Linked DNA regions of Homo sapiens. The protein of the gene in region 5 purifies or fractionates together with the protein of the main gene of each other region. This does not show direct contact. Each region holds a gene or a part of one and is shown on either strand. Other genes may lie near its edges.

Region 1 (3,718 bases), on a different chromosome or scaffold from region 5:
CTTTCCCTTCAAGAGTGCTTTCTTCAGTGGGCCCAAGGTGTGCCATCCCAGCTGGGCTATGATGACACACCCTGGAAGAGCTTTTCTCACTTAGCCCACGATCCCAAGCTGGGGAAAGGATACCATGCCATCTCAGCTCCATTTCCGTTAGTGACATCAAGGGTCCTTTGCGTCCTTCATGTGAGCTGGACTGGAGACCACTCTTCCTTGCTTCCCCATCCCCCACCCCCTGGCTTTAACACCTCTTTTCCTCGTGGGCCACATGTGTCCCTCTTGCAGCCTCGCTCTACCCATGTGCTGGCATGGTAGAGGAGGATCTGCAGAGTCCCAGCCTGGCCTCAAGAGCCAAGGAGATGAGGAATTGGGGAACCTCTAAATCCTGCCTTGCCCCCCACCCCAAGACCACATATCCACATGACAGCCACCTGGAGCTTCACTCATTCCCTGGACGTGCCCATGGCCTCTCCAGAGCCACAGGCAGCCAGGACCTCTCTTCCTCCCTCGGGTGAAATGGCCCTGCCAAGCATGCCCCTATTGCTGGCCACCACCTCTTGTCAAGGGATTTTGCTCTTACTGAAACTGCTACACTACGAGCCTGTGTTATGGCTGCCAACCTACGCTCCAGAGGGCAGGGCCCATATCCATCTCAGTGACGAGGGTGGTCAGGGCCACAACTAACATTTATTGAGCAGCTACCTAGGGCCAGGCATGGGCCAAACATTTCCCAGATTCATCTCCCTTAATTCTCACCATGAATGTGGCAGGCAGAGCCCACAACCACCAGCACATTACAGATAAACATACCAGGGCTTGGTGAACTAAAGGGATTTCCCCAAGGTTGCACAGAGGATAAGGAAAGGTCCAGGCTCAAACTCATAGCCTAGGTTCTCAGAAGCCCTGACTCACTACTCAGTTCCCTGGCATGCCCCTGCAGTGCCCATCCAGCAAAGAGTGGGAGGAATAAACAAACACAGTGTTTCTTTCAAAGCTCTTCAGTGGCCCAGGCCAGCTCTAGGTGAGCACACTCCAGTAGTACCCAGCATTGGGGATTTTGGAGTCTAGTGGTCTGGCCAGGGCTTGAATGGCTCCAAGAGCCAGGATCCCCGGGAAGGCTCTGCAATGTCATTAATATGGACTGGAAAACAGGTCCGTTATAATTATGTTTTTAAAAATCCAGCACCTGTTGTCCAACTTCAAACGGTCCAAATGCGGGACCAAGTGCAGATGACGGGATGACGGGTGAACCCACAGTGTGGCCTACCTGAGTGAGGACATCCAGCTGGCCCACAATGTGCTCCAGCGTGCTAGTCAGTGTCTGGGGCACACTCACGGGCTCCTGGGGCTGGCTCTGCACAGACTCCACACTCCTGCCTCTGCCTGGGGGGACAGGGAAGTCCACTTCTGGCTAAAGACAGAAAGAAAAAAGTTCCTCAGTCTATCCAGTGCTTGAAGAAATACTGTGAGAGGAATAGCCCCTCCAAAGGATGAAAGGGAAAACCACCAGCAAATTTGAGAAGGTAAGCTCCAAGTGTCAGTAAGAAACAGCAGCGTGGCGGTGTTCCCACATCTGGGTCCACACACATACCTTTCCAGGCAGAGGCCTTAAGTGGGGAGTGGAATCAGAATGCCTTGTGATCCAGGCAGGAAGGGGCCTGGGGAGGAGGGCAGGTAGGCAGGCCAGTGAGTGGCCTCAGCCTGCTCTTGGAGCCCCTCAGGGAAGCTAGCTGCCTCCCATATCTTCAAGCAGCTGGCACCCACCAGCAGGCATCCAGGTGAGTCCAGAGATGCTGAAGCCTGGCCTGGGCCTGAAGTCCCTCCTCTTCCTGGTCAGCTCAACTCTAATTCCCCACCCTTCAACATGGGGGTGTGCCAGGCTTCACAAATGCCTTTCCCAGGCCCAAGAAGCTGTGGCCCAGAACTTGGTGGAAGTGTGTGTGTGGCGGGGAGAGGGGTGTTCCAACCCCACCCTGGCCCAGATCCCCTGGAAAAACAAAGATTTCTGTGTGCATGTCCCAGGCTGGCACATGGCTGGCAGGAATCAGACTCCACAGGAAAGGCACCCCTGGGCTGCTTCAGATAGGACTCCAGGAGGTGAGGGGCTTAGTGTTTCTGCGTAAGGCCCTTCAGCCCCTAAATTCAGCAAAGTCAGCTCCTTGCCTTATGCACAAAGGCTTCTGTGGACCGAAGAAGTGCTGTGCACATGTTCAGTGGGCGGGATGCTGGAGCCAAGGATGTCCAAGGGCAGGGCTGGTCTTAGAGCCTGCAGTTCCTCTGTGGACTTGTTCCTGTGGGAATGTGGTTCAGCACATGGACCCTACCTGCATGTTTTCCTTTATTAGGTAAGTATTCTATTCTCATAGATCACAAACTTTCAAGGGCATGCTGATTTGAACTTGGAAAAATGCTGGCCCTCATGGTAGCTACAGGAGAACTTGAATGTGAGACATGAGCCAGAGGGATGTTCTTGACAGCATGAGCAGCACCGTGTCCACACACCTATCATCAGCATGTCGGCCACTTCCGTGGCCATTTCTAAGACTTCGGCCATCAGGGCTGGGTCTCTTCCAGTCCTCCAGGAATCAACGTGCTTCAGATCTCAATGCTTACCCAGAAGCCCATCCCAAAAGGAAATTTCAGAAGTCCACCAGCCTTGCCAGGAGAGACTTCAGCCTACCACAGTGGCCCCCAGACTAAGGCAGTTCTGTCAGGAGACACAGCAGAGTGCAGTGGTGAGGAATGGTGACTCAGACAGTCACTGACCAGCTCTGGGCCTCCATTTCCTCATCTATAAAATAGGGATGAAGACTGGGCCAGTCCTTCAAACGGCTGGGCTGTGAGAGGTGCTTATCTGAAGCTACCAGCAGGCCTTTCTTAAGAAATGTTCAGTGCTGTGCCCACTCCTTCCAGAGGACCCCCTAGCAGTGCAGACACACACTCTTCCACTGGAGGAAGGGTGTGAGCAGGGAACTCTTCTGTCCCACAGCCAGCATTGTCATGGAATGGGCCAGAGTCTGGTGCTGCTGGCTGCTTAGGAAGGAGGGAATGGAAAATGTGAGTTTCTGCAGAATGGCCCAGAAATGGACAGTGCTGAGCTCAGCCTCTGGAAGCACAGTGGATGCTGCAGGGAGGCAGGGTGAGTACCACTGACTTTAGCAATAGAAACCCTCCTGGATGAGCCAAAGCTGAGCCAGCTCCAAGGGAGTATTAAAGACAGCGGCCATGGCACTCCAAGCTGGAGAGGTGGCCTTTACAACAGAGGGTTGCGGCAGCCACCATGTTTTCCCACCTATACCACACTTTCATGGGCTGTCTCCATTTGACAATAAAGAGAACTAAGGCTCAGTCAGAAAACGACTGTCTAAAGGTAACCAGCCTCAAACTCTAGTGCTGCCCTGAGCCATTTCCCTGCCTCCTTGCCCACTCCCATCAGAAAACACCACAGCACTTAACACTCCACCAGTCCAGCAATCGCCATGGTTTACTTGCCATCCACTGTGTGCCCTCATTTAATGTCACCTCACTTAATACGTGTAACCTCACTTCATCCTTATGATGGCCCTTCCCAATAGGCATTATTAACCTTATTTTTCAGATATGGACCCTTGGGCTCAAAGAGGTTAAGTAACTTGTTCTAAGTTACCCAGCAAATAACAGAATTGGGATCTGAACCCAAAGTGCAGGCTCTTCCCGGACATGAGACAGCCTCTGGCAGGTGACA
Region 2 (3,718 bases), about 29 Mb from region 5:
CATGCATTCCCTATTGAAATCCCAATATAATTTTTTATTTTTGCAGAAATATAAAAATTCAACCCAAAATTCACAGAAAATTTCAAAGGATCCTGAAGAACCAAAATAATCTTGAAAAAGAACAAAGTTGGAATTCTTACATTTCCTGATTTCACAACATATTACAGGTTGAGTATCCCTTATCCAAAATGATTGGGATTACAGTGTGCAGATTTCAGATTCTGGAATACTTGCATTAACACTTACTGCTTTAGCAGCCTTAATCCATATAACTGGAAATGTGAAATGCTCCAATGAGCATCTCCTTTGAGTGTCATGTTGGTATTCAAAAAGTTTCACATTTTGGAGCATTCTGTATTTTTGAATTAGAGATACTCAATTGGTGAAAAGCTACAGTGATCAGTACTGTGTGGTAATGGTATCAAGACAGATATAGATATATGGGGCTGGGCACTACGACTCATGTCTGCAATCCCAGCATTTGGGGAGGCCGAGATGGGTGGATCGCTTGAGGTCAGGAGTTCAAGACCAGCCTGGCCTACATGGCGAAACCCTCTCTCTACTAAAAATACAAAAATTAGATGGGCGTGGTAGCACATGCCTGTATTCCCAGCTACTCAGAAGGCTGGACATGAGAATTGCTTGAGCCTGGGAGGCAGAGGTTGCAGTGAGCTGAGATTGTGCCATTGTACTCCAGCATGGGTGACAGAGTGAGACTGTCTCAAAAAAAAAAAAGATATATAGACCAATGGAATAGAATCCAGAGCCCAGAAACAAACCCTTGTGTATATGGTCAAAAGCTAACACCACTCAATGAAACAAGGACATTCTCTTCAACAAATGATGCAGGGAAAACTGGATATCCAAATGCAAAAGAATGAAGTTGGACTCTTACCTTCTAAAATATACAAAAGTTAACTCAAAATGGATTAAAGACTTAAATGTAAGACTTAACACTATAAAACCTCTAGAAGAAAACATAAGTGAAAAGCTTCATGACACTGTGTTTGGTACTGATTTCTTGGATATAACACTAAAAGCGTAGGCAATAAAGTGTCAATAAATTAACAATAAACAAATGGGACAACATCAAACTTAAACACTTCTATATATCAAAGGAAACAATCAGTAGAGTAAAAAGGCAACCTATGGAATAGAAGAAAGTATCTGTAAGTCATATATTTAATAAGGGGTTACTACTAGAATATATAAATAACTCTACAATTCAACAAAAACAAAATAACCCCATTAAAAAGTGAGCAAAGACTGGAATTGCCATTTTTCTAACGATGACACATGAAAAGCCAACAAGCATATGAAAATATGTTCACCATCACTGATCATTAAAGAAATGCAAACCAAAACTACAAGACATCACCTCACATTCCTTAAGGTGGCTGTTATCAAAAAACAAGATCACGATTGTTGGCGAGAATGTGGAGATACAGAAATCTTTGTGCACTGTTAGTGGGAATGTAAAATGGTACAGCTGCTGTGGAAAATGGCATGGAGGCTCCTCAAAAAATTGAAAATAGGATTACTATATGATCCAGCAATCCCTATATATCAAGTGAAATTGAAAGAACAATCTCTAGAGATATCTATATTCCCATGTTCATAGCAGCGTTATTCACAATAGCCACGAGGTGAAAGCAACCCAAATGTTCACCAACACATGAACTGATAAACAAAATGTGGTATACAAATATAATGGAATATAATTCAGCCCTAAAAAGGAAGGAAATTCTGACATATGCTATAATAAGAATGAACCTTGAGGACATTATGCTAAGTGAAATAAGCCAGGCACAAAAATTCAAACACTGCATGATTTCACTTTTATGTGGTCTATAAAGTAGCTAAATTCATAGGAACAGAAATTAAAACAGTGGCTGCCAGGGCCTGGGGGGAGGGGGAAATGGGGAGTTGTTTAATGGGTATAGAGTTTGAGTTTTGCAGGACTTAAAAAGTTCTGGACATTGGTTGCACTTCAATATGAATATACTTAACACTGCTGAACTTTAGAATGATTAAAATGGTAAATTTTACGTTACATGCTTTTTTTTTTTTTTAACACAACTAAATATTTTTTAAAAACTTAAAATTTAGCTTGTCAGTTTCAGTAGCCACTTTCCAAGTGCTCACTGTGGCCAGTCACTACTGAATTCCACAGTGCAGCTCCAGGGTATAAATGACTCTGAGTCGTTTTCTGTTAGTATTTGCCTAAATACTTGGTTGTAAAGAGGTAAAAAGACAGCTATGTGATTAAATAGAGAAAGAGGAAGGTAATAAAAACAAAACAAAACAAGGCTCTGGATCATGTGATGACAAATCTCTCATTTAACCTGTCAGCCACAGGTGGCCCTCAACCTTCTCTCAAGGAGTGTTAATTTTTGTTTTTACCCAGAACAAGATAGTTTTTCCATGGTAAATGCTCTTTTCCCCTGCCCAGTGAGTACCCAACTTTGGGGCCAACCTGTTCTGTTTAACTACGGCTTTCTGTCTACAGCTAAGGAGGATCTCTGAAACACCAACACTCTAATAAATTAAAACTTTCCAGACATCAAAGATTGTTTCACCTGTGGCTTAGAGGGTTGGAGGCCTGACTCAATCATGAATCAAACACTGATTCCAGAAAGGCCGATGGAGCTTGAAAGAAAAACAGGCTGTAGGCAAAGCCATCAAGCTCTCACAACCCTGAATTATCCTTTAAGCAAAATCCTTTTAAGTGTCCATCAGGTTTATAAATCTGAATTGCTCTGGGAAGTTACGATTTTAAGAAACTGTTTCAGCCTTTCATCAAAAGGGTCATACTGTTATCCTGGAGAGAGGCAATGAGATCTTCTAGTTCACTGGTGAGTCCTTTAAGACTAAAGTACAATGTCTAAAGACCACAGAACAAGGTTTATATCTTTCAACTGACACCAAATAAACACAAGATTTAAAACAAAGAAGAAGATTCCTGGAGACATACAAATTACCTCATTGCATTTATAGCATGGTGAAAATTAACATTACCTCAGCCCGTAATAATAAGTACAAATTATATTTTTCACTTACAAAATCAGAATTTATAGCACAGCCTAACAGCCTTTTACGAATTAGTGATATAGCAAATGACTAATGTTTTCAAAATACTTTTTTGACTAAATTTTAAGATCCCTTGACAGGGCCTTGACAGGGATTAGCCAAGCAGGATAAAAATTCTTTATCTTGCTTTTGAGTGAACCACATTTAGAGTTCAGCCAGCTTCTGGATATGGTTGAAATAAAATGCCAAGGCAGCAGTCCAAGCCCACTTCCCCTTCAAAGGCCATTTGGTTTTCCTACTTTCAAAAATGAAAGTATTCTGGCATTGTACTTATGTGTATGGACGCTCCAGGAGGGTAGGGCGTCCACTCATACATGCTTGAACAAAGAACAGCTTTCATCTTCAAATTCAAATGTTTAGGGAGAGCAAAATCCCCAAGTGAAGAGGAAGTGAGGGGACACTACTGCCCAGCTAGCCAGATTCATGATCAATGGGAAAGATGGGATGGTGGATGTCACGGTCTCCCCCTCTTACGCCCACACCACAGCTCAGGGTCATGTACAGTCTGCACAGGAACAGCACTGGCTCCCAGACTTGCCCAGCTGCTCCCAACAGCTACTCACCGCTGTGCCATGAATGATCCTCCTGCGAGAAGAGCCCTCAGGTGGTGTTACAAAGAGTTTTGGTC
Region 3 (3,718 bases), on a different chromosome or scaffold from region 5:
ATGATCCAGTTTCTTCAACAAATAAATGACATAGAAGGAAAACAAAGGTGAGAGAGGGTGAGAAGAAACTATTACAGACTAAAATGTGTGGACCTTATCTGAATCCATGTTTGAACAAACCACTGTAAAACAAAACAAAGCAAAAAAACTATAAAAAGACATTCTGGGTCAATCTGATAAATCTGTACATGAAATAGGATATTAGATGACACTTAAGAGCTGCTGTCAACTGTTACGTATAATGATGTTTCAAAAAAAAGGGCATGTATTAGTCACTATTGCAGAAATTTTGGTTGAAAGGATAGGATGAGATTTACATTAAAATACTCCAGCAATTAGAAGACGAAGAGGTGTTGGTGGTGATGGAGATAATGAAACAGAATTGATAAAACCTGTTGAGGCTGGGTGGCTAATTTCTCCCTTTTATATAAATTTGAAAGTCTCAGCCAGGCATGGTGGCTCACGCCTGCAATCCCAACACTTTGGGAGGTCGAGGTGGGTGGATCACCTGAGGTCAGGAGTTCAAGACCAGCCTGGCCAAATGGCGAAACCTCATCTCTACTAAAAAATACAAAATCAGCCGGGCGTGATGGTGGGCACCTGTAATCCCAGCTACTCAGGAGGCTGAGGCAGGGAGGATTGGTTGAACCCGGGAGGTGGAGGTTGCAGTGAGCTGAGATCCTGCCACTGCACTCCAGCCTGGGCGACAGAGTAAGAGTCCATCTCAAAAAAAAAAAGAAAAGTCTCCATAATAAAAAGTTAAAAAAAGAAAAATGGGTGTGGAGGTTAAATTTATAATTCAAACATACTTGTTTGGTAGTCTAAAAATAGGCTGATGAGACAGCAGTCTCTGCCAGAGCAACCACATTAAAAATTGTGTTTAGATTCTCAGGAAGGCCTGCCAAAGCCCATTTAGTTGGTAGCGTTTTTCAAAGGGGTACTTGTTGACATTGTGGGTAGATCAATTCTTTGTGGAATGGGAACTACCTTGGACACTGCAGGACATTCAATTCAGCACCACAGGCTCAAGACACCCAAAGCCAACATCACCCCCTCCAGTCACTGTAACAACAGAAGGAGAAAATCTCCCATTTCCCCAGAATGTCCCTGGGAGCATTAAGGAACCAACTCTGGTTAAGAACTGCTTCATTAGACCACATACTGTCGATTTACGATTAAAAAAAGAGAGACAATAAAGAGGGCCACAAAAATATTAGTAAAGAATTAATTGGCTATTGAAAAGGCAATTTTTAATTTAAAAAAGAGTCTGTCTTATTAATTCATGGTGGCAGTTGGGGATAAATAAGAAAAGCATACATACAGTCAGCATTTTTCAATGACTGCTTCTTTTTGGAAGGTTTGGAGATGACTTTTATCCGCTTGCTGAGGAACACACCAATGTCATCACTGTTGCCATAGAACATCTTTACAGACAACATGAAGTGCTTTCGCTTGTCTGAGTCAGATATATACAATGTTTTGGCTGTGCAATAGTTCTGTGAAAGAAAAGTAAAGTTTTAACAGCAGCAAAACCTTGTTTGTTTATGTAGTACCTAAAACTCAGAATGGCCATGGTTTAAGTAATAAGTAAAACAATTCCAAGGGATAGCTGATAAAACCAACTCTAAAAATTATCAACTATAAAAATTACTGAAATTGATTTCGGAAAAGTACAAAGTCTTCCTTATAAAGTCTGTAGAACACAAACATTGTCATCTATTGTATCCTCTTTAAAAGACCATTTAAAAAAACAGCCTTTTCTTGTTTTACATAGCTCTACAACTGTATCATGGAATTATCACTCAACGTTACAGCAGTAACTTTTAAAATAAATTTTACAGTTAAAAAAAATCAATGACTTTCTCCAAAAAAAAAATAATAATAAAGCTATCAGAATTCAAGAAATTATGTAAAAGATTTTAGCAGTAGTTCTTCTCAAAATAGTGCATAAAATATTTTTCTTTATATAGCTGAACACTAGAGTAATCACTTATAAGATTGAGGAAAACAATGATAGACAAACTGGATGATTATAAAATATCTTAAACCAGAAAGAGATTATATAAGCATTACTTTAAAGAACTATTTTTAAAATGGTTAACTTTGCCCAAAAGGACGATTCATATGTATCACCAGAAGAACTGAATTTAAAGGTACTAGAGAAAATGCTCAAGGCATTATGTCAGTTTACCAGAATTTAAATTCTGATAACTGAAAAGATAAAGAGATATAGCACTTTACAAACAGCAAAGACCCTTCAAAATGCTACTGCTTATATTATATATAACAATTCTAAAATCTTTCCTATTCTCTTGATCCCTGTGAATCAGGGAGGGGTCTAAATTATTGTCCTTTTCCAGATAAGATAAATGATGCTGAAACACAGCATAAGTATCTAAAGTATCGAATTATATTTTTTAAAGGATCAACATTCCACTTTAAAATTAAGCTAAACAAGTTTCTTCAACTGCCTCTCCTGTATCTTCCTTTTAAAAAGCAGAGCAAATGCTACTCAGGAAACAGTTAATGACTTCTAGGTTTTTATCTTTAAAATTTTATTCACAGACAGCCTCGGTAGCAGACAAAACTACTGCAATAGTTTATTGTATTTCTCATAGCAAAGCTATATAAGAAAATTTAGATGCCATCTTGAACATTATACATTTAACTAAGTTTTTAAAAATCAAAAGTTTGGTAAAAGCTTTGAGAGGTTTTGCTCTGTAGAAGGCAAAAATAAGATAAAGCCAATCATAGTAATAAATAAAAACAGGCCAGGGTGGTGGCTCATGCCTGTAATCTCAGCACTTTGGGAGGCCAAGGTGGACAGACTGCTTAAGTCCAGAAGTTTGAGACCAGCCTGAGCAACATGGTGAAACCCCATCTCTACGAAAAACACAAAAATTATCCAGGCATGGTGGTGCATGCCTGTAGTCCCAGCTACTCAGGAGGCTGAGGTGGGACGGTCGCTTGAGCCCAGGAGGCAGAGGTTGTAATGGGCCGTGATCCCACCACCGCACTCCAGCCTGGGCGGCACGGTGGCACCCTGTCTCAAAATGAATAAAGATAAAGAAACAAAAAACAACAGTACTTTGCAGTCACATCACTCCTTGCACCCAAGATCTCTAACGCACTCAGAGATGGCATCTGTGAGCTGCTATACCCATAGGTCGGCCATACTCTTAAAAGTGACAGACAGCATTGAAGGTCAAATTAAGCCTAAACAATGAAATTCTTCTGCAACATAAGACGAGGTCTATGAAAATGGGTATCAATGTACTAAAGCAGACAGTCATGGGAAGCAAAAATGAAATTTATATCTAAATGAAGGTAATTACATTCTAATGGGAAAGCTTAAAAATGTTGAGATGGCTTTTGAGTGTTAAAATTAAAAGGTAAGATCCATATCAGAAAGAGAAAATACTGAAATCCAGCATAAATAAGACATATTGGCAAACAAGAACGGAAAAAAAGAACCAAGAAGGTTGGATCATAAGACCTACACAAAAAGAACTGCATTTTGTTCGGAAAAAACAAACACACATATATCTCCTTGGAAAGAAAGGAAATATATCCCTAATTACAATGAGTAGTTTGAATCCACAAAAATCATAATCAAGATAATTTTATGGGAACTATTAGTTTTAAAAAACTATAAGGCCACTGACCACAAACTACTCAAATTCCATTAAGAAAAGAAGGAAAAAGTCACTGACTCATA
Region 4 (3,718 bases), on a different chromosome or scaffold from region 5:
AACAAGCTTCAGTCCAGGTGCCATGAGGACGAGCCACCCCATTCCTTCCAGTGTACATGCTGGGGTCCCCCACCTCAGGCTGGTCTGCCTCTGGACCCAGCTCAAGGACGCTGGTCAGTCCCTCAGGCCGGAGAAGGAGTCCCAGGGTCAGGGTCCCAGAGTCTTTGTGCTTTGGTGGATCTTGGCTGATGTCCCACTGCAGGATTTCAAAAGGCTGAGCTCAGTCCTCCAATCCTCCAGCCTGGCCTAGAAACCTACTTTCTAGCTAGCTAGAAACGCCTAGCTGGAGGAATGGTGTGTCCTTTGTGTCTCTTGGGACCCTGGATCCAGCCCAACTCAGACCCAAACTCCCCAACCTACACCACCTCACCTCTGGGACTGGGGGTCGAGAGTGAGCCAGCAGGTTCAGCCGAGCCCCCAGGCCCTGCTCCAGGAGGGTGGTCAGGGGGCCCAAAGCAGCTGAGACATAGTCCCCACCATTGTCCTGCAGCTCTGGCCAGAGCTTCAGCCGGTGGCACGCTGCCTGCAGGCGACTCAGTGGACGGAGACTGGAGGGGTACAAAGGGCCAAAGAGGGGTAATCAGGTTGCTGGCCCCTAGTACCACCTCCTCCCTGAATGATCTGAGCACCTGTCTGAAGACCTTTGCCCCACCACTGTAGCCCCGAAGAGACAGGACCCGCCAACATACCCTGTCACCCCTAAACTCACTGCAGGACATGGTCAAAAGCCCGGATCATGGGTTTGGGAGTCATCAACAGCAGGTGGAACCCGTCGTCAGCTCTGCTGTCCAGCAACATCATAGACAGCCGTGCCTCATGCTGTACCTGGAGCCACAGAAGGGACCATCCCTGTGCCCTTCATTGATCCAAGGGCTTAGACCAGGAGACATGCCCTAAACTTAACTCTTTGAAGAGGAGTTTCTGGGGTTCTGGTACTTGCAAAAGGGACAGAGTCTGGGCTGAGACATCAGGGGAACACAGATTGGGGGCCCATTGGTACCTGGTGGTAAGTAGAGGCAGTGACATCAGCACAGAGGTTGAGATGGCCTGAGGAATCCAGGAAGACAACGGAGAAGGCCTGGTGGAAGTCAGCCAGGGCCGGCTTGGGGGGTGTAGAGAGAAGCAGGTCAGGATTGGCACCTTACTTGCAGGCCTCCTGGCATAGACCTGGCCCTTCCCCAACTCACCAAAGAGGGATCTGAGCTGAGACATAAACTGATCCCGTTGACTGTCAGGTCTGTAGTGGCTGAAGTGAATCACAAGTGTATTAGAAGGTATCCCCTTCTGGGGACCCAGCCCTAATGACACCCTCCCTCAGCCGATTCAGTTTGCTCATCTGTCTGATGGCAAAACACCAAAAGACTGCTACTGGGATGAGAGGATTCCCAGGAGGAGTGGAGCCCCTGGCCTTTCCCCACCTAGTTGCCTCACCCAGAAACTGCAAGACACTTCTCAGGACCTGGTAGCCACTCATGGTGGTATGGATCTTGCGTGTAGACACAAGGAAGACAACCAGCATGGAGACAAGGAACCCAGTAAACCCACCCTGGCCCTGAAAGAGACAGGGAGAGGCTGAGGTCAGAGCCTGCCCATCACACAGGCGCTCAGGTAGGGAGGCTGCGCCACCCCCAACTCACCTTGTCCAGCTCCCGCTGCCGCAGCCAGACCTTCAGAAGTGCCACGCCATCCTTCAGGCCCTGGGCTGAACTCAGAATGGTTGACAGCAGCTGCAAATGGGACTCGAGAACTGTATCTTGCAGGACCCATGTGTTATAGCGGGGGGTAGGAGGCTCTGGGCTACCTGTGGGATGAAAAGGGAAGCCATGAGAGGAAAAGTCCCCACACCTCTTCCCTCCAGCTCCACCTCAACACCAGGGCCTGCTCACCATCCCCTGCAGGACTCTGCCCTCGGTACCAGGCAGAGCGCACATTGTTCTTGGTTGGCAGCAAGCGGCACGGGCGGAAGAAGTCAGGTGGAGGGCACGGATGCAGACGTACAGTGACCAGGCGCTCATCCTTTCCTGCCAGAGACAGTGAGTGCTGAGACTCTGCAGGAGCCCTTGGAGCCAGAGGGCTCCCCATCCTGTCCCCCCATACTTGAGGCCTCCGTGCCTCTGTGCCTTCTCCTCCAGATTTACCATCCCATGCTATGCCCTCAGCCCAATGTGTGCCTCTCACCACGCGGCCGCAGCAACAGTGAGGGTTTCAGGTGGCAGCCATTTGTGTAGGAGAAGCAAACACTGCCAAAGAGGGGGTCCTGGGCCAGGTGGTGAGCCAAGTGGGCCAGGTAGAGGGCACGCTTGCGGAAGTAGCGCTGGTTCAGCCCGTCCTTGTCCTGTAGGATTTCCTGGAGGGGCCAGGGGAGAAGAGAAGGCCAGGCACATAAGTGCTTGTGGAGCTGTGGGCCAAGGTGAAACCAAGGTGAGAGAGCCAGGGCTCCTCTGCTGACAGAAGTGCCTGAGCCACGGTTAGCAACACTAGGCCCAGTTCTCATATCTGGAGAGCAAAGCTCCAAAAGGACAGCAACTGGCCCGAGGGATCTAAGCTGCCTTCAGGATGCCTGCAATGGTCTGCTCTTCTGATTTAGAATTCTGACTTCAATCCCCTGGCAAGCGGCAGATAAGAAAGAGGGATCCAGGATTTGTAGGTAGTCAGGTGGTGGGCCTCTATCCCCTAAACCCTGGACCTTACCCTGGGCATGGTCAGTGCCACATCCACATTGATGTCTGGTCGGATGCAGGTGCCCAGAAGGTAGCTGCCCACAACAGTAACCTGGGCTGGGGGCAGGAAGCGGAAACAGCCCTTCACGGCATAGGGCACTTGGTGGAGGGGCACTCGAACCCCAGCTGGGAGCCATGCCTGGTCAGTGAGCTGTGGGGGCAGAGACAGGGACACATACTGATTCAACTGCCTTCCTCACATGTACCCTTTATGTCTAGAAGACATTTTAACACATCGATATGTTTGAAACCAAACTCCCAATCTTCCCATAACTATGTCTTCCTTGCTAAGACAACTCCATATGAGTTGCTCAAGCCAAAACCACTTAAATCACCTTAACTTAGCTCTGTTAAGAATACCCATTTTACGAGCCGGGCGTGGTGGCTCACGCCTGTAATCCCAGCACTTTGGGAGGCCGAGGTGGGCGGATCACGAGGTCAGAAGATCGAGACCATCCTGGCTAACACGGTGAAACCCCGTCTCTACAAAAATAATTAGCCGGGCATGGCGGCGTGCGCCTGTAGTCCCAGCTGCTGGGGAGGCTGAGGCAGAAGAATGGCGTGAACCCGGAAGGCGGAGCATGCAGTGAGCCGAGATCGCACCACTGCACTACAGCCTGGGGAACAGAGCAAGACTCTGTCTCAAAAAAAAAAAGAATACCCATTTTACTACCAAAATGTATTCAGAAATGGATCACTTCTCTAAAAAGAAAACTTTTTTAAAACAGAGAGAGGAAAAGATTTAAAAAAAAAAAAAAAAAAGAAAGAAATGGATCACTTCACTACTTTCCTCCCTAGTTTGAGGAGCCACCATTTCTCAGTGCCTAGACTAGTTCCTAACTGGTCTCTCTAATCTCATCATTGTCCCTCTCGATTCTACTTTTGACACAACAGCCGGAGTAAATTTTTCTAAAACTAAACTTTTTAAGGCTGGAAAAGTGAACGTTTTAGGCTGGGCACGGTGGCTCACACCTGTAATCCCAGCACTTTGGAAGGCC
Region 5 (3,718 bases):
GCTGAGATCACACCACTGCACTCCAGCCTGGGCAACAGAGCAAGACCCTGTCTCAGAAAGAAAAAGAAAAGGAGAAAAAAAAGAAAAGGAGCTGTTCTGATAAGAGCACTGGCATGAAGGTGTGGCTAAGAACTCAGCTCAATCAGCAAGCATTCTGTTTGTGACCTTGTAAGCCTCACCTTCCTTTACTCAGGGTAAATCATGCTACCTGTCCCACAGGGTGGTTGTGAGGATTTAAGGAGACAGTGCACACACAGCACTGAGTCTATCTGAATCACACTAAGTGCTTAATAAATATTTATGGCCGGGTGCGGTGGCTCATGCCTGTAATCCCAGCACTTTGGGAGGCCGAGGCGGGTGGATCACTTGAGGTCAGGAGTTCGAAACTAGCCTGGCCAACACGGTGAAACCCCATCTCTACTAAAAATACAAAATTAGTTGGGTGTGGTGGCGCGTGCTTGTAATCCCAGCTACTCGGGAGGCTGAGGCAGGAGAACTGCTTGAACCTGGGAGGCGGAGGTTGCAGTGAGCCAAGATCGTGCCACTGCACTCTGGCCTGGGCAACAGAGTGAGACTCTGTCTCAAAAATAAATACATAAAAATTTATTATTACAATATGATTTATTATTACGTAATGCTATTCCCAAGCCATGGCAGAGGTAGTTCTGTAGGGGACTTTTATTAGGGGAGTTGTAATGACACTCTCAAGTACACTGAGAAGGACTTTCCCACAGTGCCTCAGGGTAAGTCACTCATGGAAGGCACTTCTTAGAGGTCTGTTTGTCCTAAAGGCTGGGAATTTAAGCCCTTTATGTTTCTTCTGTTCTGTTATCTGGCATTATTTCTTTAAAAAAGAAAGAAAAGAAAACATATACACACACCAGAAAGGAAGGGGTGGAGATAGCTGAAAACCTTTACCCCTAATGCAGTGTTTCAAATTGTGGGATAGTAGATGATAACTGATTTTGGTGGATCGTGAAGAGGGAGGAGCCGGGCACGGTGGCTCATGCCTATAATCCCAGCACTTTGGGAGGCTGAGGTGAGTGGATCACGAGGTCAGGAGATTGAGACCATCCTGGCTAACGCAGTGAAACTCCATCTCTACTAAAAATACAAAAAATTAGCTGGGAGTGGTAGCACACGCCTGTAGTCCCAGCTACTCAGGAGGCTAAGGCAGGAGAATCACTTGAACCCGGGAGGCGGAGGTGGCAGTGAGTGCCACTGCACTCCAGCCTGGGCAACAGAGCGTCTCAAAAAAAAAAAAGAAGAGGGAAGGATTAGCCACTAGGGAGGCTTAGGTGGGAGGATCACTTGAGTCTTGGAGGTGGAGGTTGCAGTGAGCTGTGACTGCACCACTGTACCATAGCTTAGGCGACAGAGTGAGACTGTGTCTCAAAAATAAATAAATAAATAAATAAAGAGGGAGGGAAGGAGGAAATAAGAAAGCAAAAAGAATAGAAAATATCAAAGTGTACTGCACAAAGTAAATCAAGTTAAGAGTTTTGTTTCATTACTATGTGTATGTCTAAATACTTATTTACAAATTCATACAGGTAAGTTGTATTGCTCTATAAGGTGATTTATAACTGTGGGTCACTGTGGAAAACCATTGCCCTAACAAATACAAAGTGCCTTACTTGCTAATTCCTGTAGAATGTAAAGTAAAATTTTTGGCAATTTATTCACCATTTAGTTCTATTACACTAAAATAATTTTAGAGGTCCCATGGACTATAAGATTACTATAAGGTTTACCAATAGAGAGAAATTTGGGTTTGGAGTACTAACAATTACAAATCATAACTATATTAGGAGTGATTTTAGAAAAGGAGACTTTGCTTTAAAATAAGGTTCCATTAGCACATTTAAAATAGAATTTCCTAAGAAAGAGATCATCAGAAACGTATATAGCATGCAACAAGAGTACATGTTCTAGAGGGAGACTTGCCCAGGGGAGAAATGAGTACAGGGAAAAGTTTCTGGTGAATTATTTGAATACCAACAACACACACAAGGTTTGACTCCCTCACATTCCTACAGCAGGTGGGAGGCAAGAGTACATTGAAACTGGGAAACCCCCCATAACTCTCAATATTCAGCCTCATTAATACAAATATTTCCATTTCCACCAAGCATGTTAGAAACACTGCCGTCAACAGAAACATTTTTGGCTAGATTGCTTGAATTAAAAATGTTAGTGTCCCAGTAGAGGGCAATATTCACTCCCAGAAACCTTGGGTACACAATTCAACACAGAACACAACACAAGCACTGAAGAGAAACTTCTTAGATACTCCCACACTGGTGTCCTGTCAGCTCAGTGCTCCAATTAATTCCACAAATGCTGCCAAGGCGGCAATGGGCTGGCTGCGTTTGTGGCTGATGATAAAATCTCGGCTCAGCTGTCTAGGAGTATCAAGAAATCTTTAAATCTGTGCTACTTGGCACTGGGTAGGACTGGCTGACACATTCCCAATTCTCTGAGGCTCGTCTTCCAACCATATGGGAACTCTGCTGTACAGCTCAGGCTCTGCAATGCCAGCGTCTAGCCCGGATCTTGATCAGGGCGTTTCATTCAGCCACCAGCACCCGTAGAACCCAGAGAGAATGCCCAAATCTCTCAGCTGGAGAATCTGACTGAACAAAAAGAAGCTGATGTTGGGTTACAAGTGAGGGGTAAATAGACTATTTAGGGAGACTCCAGGTGTCCATGCCCAGTGACATCCCAGGGAGTGGGACACCCTGGAGATGCTCCAAGTGCTAGACGTCTTCATCGCAACCCCAAATCCAAGAGTGGTCACTGAATTTAGTTCAATGAATGAGTGGCTCAAAAGTGCCCTGAGAGTCAGCACGCTGGAACACTCAGAAAGCAGCATGGCTTGGGGAAGCAGAGAGGCCATGTGAAACAGTGGTCAGTTGGGCTGGCATCTCCCTCCTGGAATCACAGTCGCATGAATGATGCTTATACCACTTTCATTTTCAACATTATTATTTTCATCATCATCATCAAATTTTTTTTTGAGACAGGATCTCACTCTGTTGCCCAGGCTGGAGTGCAGTGATGTGATCTTGGCTCACTGCAACCTTCGCCATCACTCCCCACCCTCCCCAGGCTCAAGTTATCCTCCCACCACAGCCTCCCAAGTAGTTGGGACCACAGGCACACACCACCATGGTCAGCTAATTTTTTTTGTATTTTTAGTAGAGACCCTGTACTTATTTTTCTATCCTGGGTATTAATTAGGGCAGGTCTCCCTCTAGAACATGTACTCTTGTTGCACAGTATATGAATTTCTAATGATCTCTTTCTGCACAAAATCCTATTTTAAATGTGCTCACCATGTTGTCCAGGCTGGCCTCGAACTCTTGAGCTCCAGTAATCGGCCCACCTTGGCTTCCCAAAGTGTTGGAATTACAAGTGTGAGCCACCACATCTGGCCAAAACAATTTTTTTTTAAATTAAATCAGAGACAGGGCTGCACTAAGTTGCCTATGTTCACAGGCGTGACCCCACTACTGATCAGCAGGGGAGTTCTGACCTGCTCTGTTTCTGACCTGAGCCGGTTCACCCCTCCTTAGGCAACCCAGTGGTACCCCTCACTAAGTTCAGCATCAATACGGTGACCTCCCAGGATCAAGCCAGACACAGTCTCTGCTCTCACGGCTCTTACTCTGTGGGTCATCCTTCTGCTGCCAACACTATATGGTAAGGGTGAAGG

Evidence for each region.
Region 1: the proteins of BEND3 (region 5) and POC1A purify together in Homo sapiens (affinity purification with mass spectrometry; one large-scale study listed by BioGRID and IntAct). This does not show direct contact.
Region 2: the proteins of BEND3 (region 5) and MAP7 purify together in Homo sapiens (affinity purification with mass spectrometry; one large-scale study listed by BioGRID and IntAct). This does not show direct contact.
Region 3: the proteins of BEND3 (region 5) and RBPJ purify together in Homo sapiens (affinity purification with mass spectrometry; one large-scale study listed by BioGRID and IntAct). This does not show direct contact.
Region 4: the proteins of BEND3 (region 5) and NOL6 purify together in Homo sapiens (affinity purification with mass spectrometry; one large-scale study listed by BioGRID and IntAct). This does not show direct contact.

The regions. Positions count from the first base shown.
Region 1 is NC_000003.12:52,095,308-52,099,025, forward strand, and holds part of POC1A (POC1 centriolar protein homolog A), read right to left. Parts: intron 1,406-3,718; coding exon 1,262-1,405; intron 1-1,261.
Region 2 is NC_000006.12:136,368,848-136,372,565, forward strand, and holds part of MAP7 (ensconsin), read right to left. Parts: coding exon 3,654-3,718; intron 1-3,653. UniProt on the Homo sapiens protein: Microtubule-stabilizing protein that may play an important role during reorganization of microtubules during polarization and differentiation of epithelial cells. Associates with microtubules in a dynamic manner.
Region 3 is NC_000004.12:26,418,329-26,422,046, reverse strand, and holds part of RBPJ (recombining binding protein suppressor of hairless), read right to left. Parts: intron 1,497-3,718; coding exon 1,322-1,496; intron 1-1,321. UniProt on the Homo sapiens protein: Transcriptional regulator that plays a central role in Notch signaling, a signaling pathway involved in cell-cell communication that regulates a broad spectrum of cell-fate determinations.
Region 4 is NC_000009.12:33,467,321-33,471,038, forward strand, and holds part of NOL6 (nucleolar protein 6), read right to left. Parts: intron 2,872-3,718; coding exon 2,692-2,871; intron 2,348-2,691; coding exon 2,179-2,347; intron 2,022-2,178; coding exon 1,887-2,021; intron 1,802-1,886; coding exon 1,638-1,801; intron 1,553-1,637; coding exon 1,432-1,552; intron 1,247-1,431; coding exon 1,188-1,246; intron 1,103-1,187; coding exon 1,001-1,102; intron 826-1,000; coding exon 710-825; intron 616-709; exon of another isoform or gene 549-615; coding exon 371-548; intron 197-370; coding exon 74-196; intron 1-73. UniProt on the Homo sapiens protein: Part of the small subunit (SSU) processome, first precursor of the small eukaryotic ribosomal subunit.
Region 5 is NC_000006.12:107,073,832-107,077,549, forward strand, and holds part of BEND3 (BEN domain-containing protein 3), read right to left. Parts: intron 1-3,718. UniProt on the Homo sapiens protein: Transcriptional repressor which associates with the NoRC (nucleolar remodeling complex) complex and plays a key role in repressing rDNA transcription.